Regions from separate parts of the Homo sapiens genome. Here region 2 is linked to region 1. The links come from fine-mapping of genetic effects on gene expression. A gene starts in region 1. The other region holds a variant in brackets. All regions are shown on one strand. Distances are between the middles of the regions.

Evidence for each region. PIP is the estimated chance that this variant, and not a neighbour inherited with it, causes the effect.
Region 2: its variant is fine-mapped to the expression of TMEM150C in thyroid (GTEx, PIP 0.98).

What each region holds. Positions count from the first base shown.
Region 1 is chr4:82,560,857-82,563,758 of GRCh38, reverse strand. It overlaps TMEM150C (transmembrane protein 150C), which reads left to right and starts at 1,771. Exons shown (of 8, transcript NM_001080506.3): 1 at 1,771-1,853. RefSeq lists an enhancer at 1,546-2,045.
Region 2 is chr4:82,624,992-82,627,893 of GRCh38, reverse strand. No RefSeq gene overlaps it. Among named protein-coding and RNA genes, the nearest start is that of LINC00575, 5.0 kb to the right of the region's middle. The variant C/T (reference allele first, on the strand shown) is at 1,185.

The sequences.
Region 1 (2,902 bases):
GGACAGCTAATTCTTTGGCTGGATCTACTTCTGAAAGAATGAATTGGAAGATCTAGCTAGAGGACTCTTTCCGTTATTGCAGAGAGAAATGAATGGCATGGGGACAGGGAGTAGAGAGAGGAGGGGTTCATGGATGGGCCTCAAGCAATCTTACCTTTGGGGGAGTCAGACCACTTTGAGGGTCTGATTAATGTGTAGTTACTCTCCTCAGAAAAGTACACATAAGCTAATTCCCACAAAATTGAGCATATACTTTCAAGGGAGTCTAGACTAAGATTCAGTTTTTGCTTTTGCTATTTTAATTGAATGGATAACAGTCCCACTCATTAAAATAAGGAAAACAAGAGAAGGCAAGATCCCTGGTCTCAGGAAGCTTACAGTCTAGTAGCCAGGAGAAAACAGTAACAAGAAATCAACATACAGAAAAAAAAAAAGAATCAATATACACATAGTAGACAATAATCACAAGAATTGTGGGGAAGGGAGAGTTCTGGAACCGAACGTTAATTGCAGAATTTGAATATGCTGAATTGGAGAAGATTCTTAGAAACACCTGGTTGGGCCGGGCGCGGTGGTTCACGCCTGTAATCCCAGCAGTTTGGGAGGCTGAGGCAGGCGGATCACTTGAGGCCAGGAGTTTTGAGACCAGCCTGGCCAACGTGGTGAAACCCCGCCTCTACTGAAAATACAAAAATTAATCGGGCATGGTGGCGGGCGCCTGTAATCCCAGCTACTCAGGAGGCTGAGGCGAGAGAATCGCTTGAACCCGAGAGGCAGAGGTTACAGTGAGCCGACATTGCGGCACTGCACTCCAGCCTGAGCGACAGAGCAAGACTCCGTCTCAAAAAAAAAAAAAAAAAGAAAGAAAAGAAAAGAAAAGAAAAAGAAAAAGAAAAAGAAAAAGAAAAAAAGGGAATGCCTGCTTGTGTAGAGACAGCAGTTTAAAGGAGACAGGTGTGCTACGGAAGCCCCCAAAAGAATAGAGGGCAGACTGACAAAGGCCGGTTGATAGAGAGCCACCTGTTGGAGGCCAGAGAGGTTGTGTTTGGAACCCAGGCTCATGATGAGCCTAAGATAAAAATGGCATTGATCCATGCTGCTGCTAGAGGTCACTGACATGGTGCCATGGGGTCCCATGGTAGGTTGGGGGTCCGGGATGGGGGAAGCTGTCAAAACGCTGATGAACACAGTTTATGACGGACTCAGACGAGACCCAGGGAGGAAAGCTGCAAGCTGGCGCTGGGAGGTCGGCCTTGGTGTCTGCTGTTCATTGCCAGGGTCCGAAGTTGGCTCTGTGTTTGTTCAATAGGATGGAAAAAAAAAAACCAAAAACCGCGGGACAGCGCTGAGTGGAGGAGAACTACATTCAGTCAATGGGCATGAAAATGAATTTTAGCTGCTTTGTGCAAAAACCCTAGGTGTGCGGACGAAAGAGAGCCAGGCAGAAGGTTACAACAGGTCAGGAATAAATAACCACCAGGCGGAGGATCCAAGATTCTGTCCTTCCTTTTGTTGGATGAGGAGCGCCAGGCAAACGCGTCCACAAAGGCTTCGGAAGGAAGCGGCTCGCCCGCCCACACCCGGCTCCTGCCCCGGGTGACTATTAGGGGCCCCGGGGGGGTGGCAGAAGCCCGAGACCCAGGGGATCAACTCTCCCCGAAGGCCTAGCAGCGGGGACCCCAGAATAAGTCGGGGGCGGGCCCCGGCGCGGCAGGAGGGGGCCGGGCGGGCGGGTGAGCAGATCCCACCCCTTCCTGAAGGAAGCGCCCTACCCGCCGCTACTGCTGCCGCCGCCGCCACCGCAGCAGGTCACAGCCCCTCGAGGCGACAGCGGCCCCGCCGCACCAGAGCAGGTAGGCGCGGCGCCCCCTCCCCTGCCTGGGCCCGTCGCGCAGCCAGGGGGCGTCCGGCCCGGCCCCGTGCGCAGCCCGCAGGCGGAGACCGGGGACGGCGGGGGCTGCAGCGCGGCTGGGGCGGCTGGGTCCGCCCGGCTGCGGGGCCCTGCTCGGCTGCGGCCCCCTCCCATAGCGTCCCGGGCGCGGGGCCGCCCGCCCGAGCCCTCCGCGGGCGCACGCTCCCCGGCAAGTCCAGGAGTCGGTGCCGGCTCTGCCCCGCGACCTGCGAACGCCCGAGCCGGCGCGCCTCGGTCCCCGCCGCCGCAGTGCCGCCAGCCAGCCCGCCCGCTGCGGCCCCGGCCCCGGCCCCGGCCCCGTCCTTTGACAGGTGTCCCCACCCGCCGCCCCATCATCTCGTTATCGGGTGGACTCGGGTGAGAAGCGACCCCAAGTTTGACCTCCCGGTCCCTGTGCCATTCTCCCTGCACTTTGCGGTTAGCCAGGTCAGGCTGGCTCGGGAAGCAGGGGATCTGGGAAGGAGGCACTAACTTGCTTTGCCCTGTGTACCGCCCTCCACTCTAAATGCACAGTCTTCCTTCCTTTCCTGGGCGCACACTTGGGAAGAAATGGGATTTTTGGTTTTTCGGCGGGAGGCCGTGGTAGGTGGGTTACCTAGGCTCTTTGGTAATCTGCTGCAATAAAAAAGTGATTAGCTTTGGGTTCTGGAGAGAGTCCTTGAGTGGTTTTCCCCTCCTTAAATGAATCAAATGGAGTATGAGAGGGTTTTCCCATTTTAAATTCATGCTCCTTTTTTCTCTACTCATTCCTTTCCTCCACCCCTACCCCCACAGCACTTTATGATGTCCCACACATTTCACTGATCTTTTTGGTCAGGTTTATTCCGGCCAGACCGCCTTTCACGGTTGGGCCAGGATTGTGACCGCATGTGGGAACATAGCTCAGGTAGAATGGAAGTCCATCTTCCCGAGTGAACCCACTCCGATGTCCTACATGCGAGGTCCTGTTGGGGAACCAGATATACCAATGCCATGTTGAAAAACAAAACC
Region 2 (2,902 bases), 64 kb before region 1:
AAAACAATTTAATGAGAGAAATTATTACAGAAAGCTCTACAGCTTAATGGGGTAGTAGAAATAGCACTGGACTTGGAGTCCTGAGACCTGGATTTGAACTCTAACTCTTGATCTGACTGGCTGTGTTACCTGGGACTCAGGTTAAGGCTGAAATATGACATATGAAATTGTCATTTACTAGCCTGCGGAGCCTCTCTGAGCCTCAGTGTCCTTGTCTACACGACAGGAAGAGCAACATTTATGTGTATTAGATGAATCTGGAAGCCTCATCCCAGTGCCTGGGGCATTGCAGAGCCCTGGGAGACATCAGTTGAGGGTGAGTAGCATGCCCCACACACAAGCCAGAGACTGGGATATGGTGCAGAGAGCCATAGACCAGAAGTGAGCCAGCTTCTGGGCCTGGTTTTGCTAACTAACCAGATGGCTCTAACCTCTGGGAACTTTGGTTTCACTTTCCATAAAGGACCAACTGGATTGGGTTAACCTGTCCAGCTCTGCCGTTCTGGGGAGTCTTTGCAACCGTGTGCCTCCATCAGTTCCAGGCCTCCGCGTGGCCCTCTGCACCCCTGGCCTCCTTACTGTGCCTCGCACCTGTGTCAAAGGACAGGTCTGGCCTGCAATGTCCCTATGCTTCAGTCAGCTCATCAGGACCTGGAATAGATTTGTGGAGGGGAGAGGTTGAAACTCATGGATGAGAGTAAGCATTGGGGATTATCTGTGAGGTTCATTTGTCCATTTCACTCCTGTCCCCAATTACAAAGGGGACTGAAAACCAGTTGTGTTCTCAGTGGCTGAAAGAAATCTCCTAACCTTTATAATCCTTTCTTAAAAAATTTTCCCATTTTTGGCCAGGTGTGGTGGCTCACATCTGTAATCCCAGCACTTTGGGAGGCCGAGGCGGGCAGATCACGAGGTCAGGAGATCGAGACCATCCTGGGTAACAGTGAAACCCCATCTCTACTAAAAATACAAAAAACTAGCCGGGCATGGTGGCAGATGCCTGTAGTCCCAGCTACTCTGGAGGCTGAGGCAGGAGAATTGCTTGAACCCAGAAGGCGGAGCTTGCAGTGAGCCGGATTGCACCACTGCACTCCAGCCTGGGCAACAGAGTGAGACTCTGTCTCAAAAAAAAAAATTCCCATTTTTAGCTTAGGGTGTTAATCAAACTCCTTCCCCTTCCTCTA[C/T]GTCAAGGATGTGCTATAAATGAACTGGAAACTCCTTTCCTTGTTCCCTCTGCTACTTCCCTGTGGACTGTAGAGTCCGAAGCCCCCATCCCACCCCAAGGATGTTCCTGACTTCTACATTTGCAACATCAGAAGCAGGAGGAGGGAAGGCCTGTCTCAGGGCAACAAGCCCGGCTGTCCCAGCAGCTTCTGTGGGCTCCGACACAGCCTTCTTTCCCTCTCCATTCACCCCCCGACCCCGTGGTGCCACGACTCCCCATCTGGAAGAACAGTCAGCCACATCCTGCCTGTAACTGCTTCACAGGATCCAAAAGGAAAATATCAGCTAACAGCAGCCTGGGCTAGCTGGGGCTGTGAAGACTTTGCCCTGCAAAAGAGTACCCTTCCTTACAGCTGCTGGCCTAGGTTTACTATGGAAAAAAGATGGCATTACCTTCAACCAGCCATCTGAATCCCTCACAACTAGGGATCTACTAATAGCTGCCCTCCTCCCCACTTGTTCTCAATCCTCTATGAGGCAACTCTCAATGTTACCATTGAATCTCAGAAGTTGCTTGCTTGCTTGCTTTCTCTTTCTTTCTTTCTTTCTTTCTTTCCTCTCTCTCTCTCTTTTTCTTTCTTACAAGGTCTCACTCTGTCACCCAGGCTGGAGTGCAGTGGCGCAATCTCAGCTCATTGCAACCTCCCCTCACTGCAACCTCCACCTCCTGGGTTCAAGCAATCCTCCCACCTCAGCCTCCCCAGTAGCTGGGACTACAGGTGCATGCCACGATGCCCGGATTTCTGTTGTTGTTGTTGGGGGTAGAGATGGGGCTTCACCACGTTGGCCAGGCTGGTCTCAAAACTCCTGACCTCAGGTGATCCGCCCGCCTTGGCCTCCCAAAATGTTGGGATTACAGGTGTGAACCACCATGCCCGGCCAGAAGTCTCAGAAGTTGCTTTCTTCTAGAGGTACCAACTGTGAGACAGAGCTGGCAACCCCTGTGCTGTGGGTGGACAAAATGACTGGGCCCACCACAGCAAGGGTGTGTTTGTAGTTTTATGACCAGATTTCACATAAGCCTGTGCTCACAGCACATGTATCGCAAAACACAGGAGCTGTGTGTAAGGGTGCGTTCTTATTCTGAGCTGTGTGGCCAAGCTGCTGCGTGGGGTCGGGGGAGCTCCCTATAAAGTACATGATGTGAGCATTGGTGGAGATGAACTAAGCTAACTGGGATCTCCAATGTCTCAAAGACAGCATGTGTCCCACAGGCGTCATGGCAGACTCATGGAGCCAGCCTGGGACAGTGGAGCCAACTCAAGTTCACCTCAAGTCCCCAGCTCTGCTACCGGCCAGCTCTGTGGCCTTGAGAAACATCAGCCTTTCTGGATTCAGTTTCCTTCTCTGAAAAGTTCCTGACTTCTACTCTGCAACATCAGAAGCAAGAGGAGGGAAGGCCTGTCTCAGGCAATGTAGGCAATATCTTCCAGTTCCAGTAAACAGGTTCTGACACCCGAGGCAGAGGGATAAGGAAGATTCACTTCAGCTCCTTCCTGGCCCTGCAATTGCTGCCCATGAATCCAAGAATGGCTTGATCAGAGCTGACTGAGTGCCTTCTATTTCCTCCTCGGAACTAAAGGGCACTTTCATTTCTAGCATCATAAAGTGCTTATTTCGGATGTGCCAACCAATGAGCACATCTGTCTGCACTGTTGTCCACAGCTCCTGCTAGACT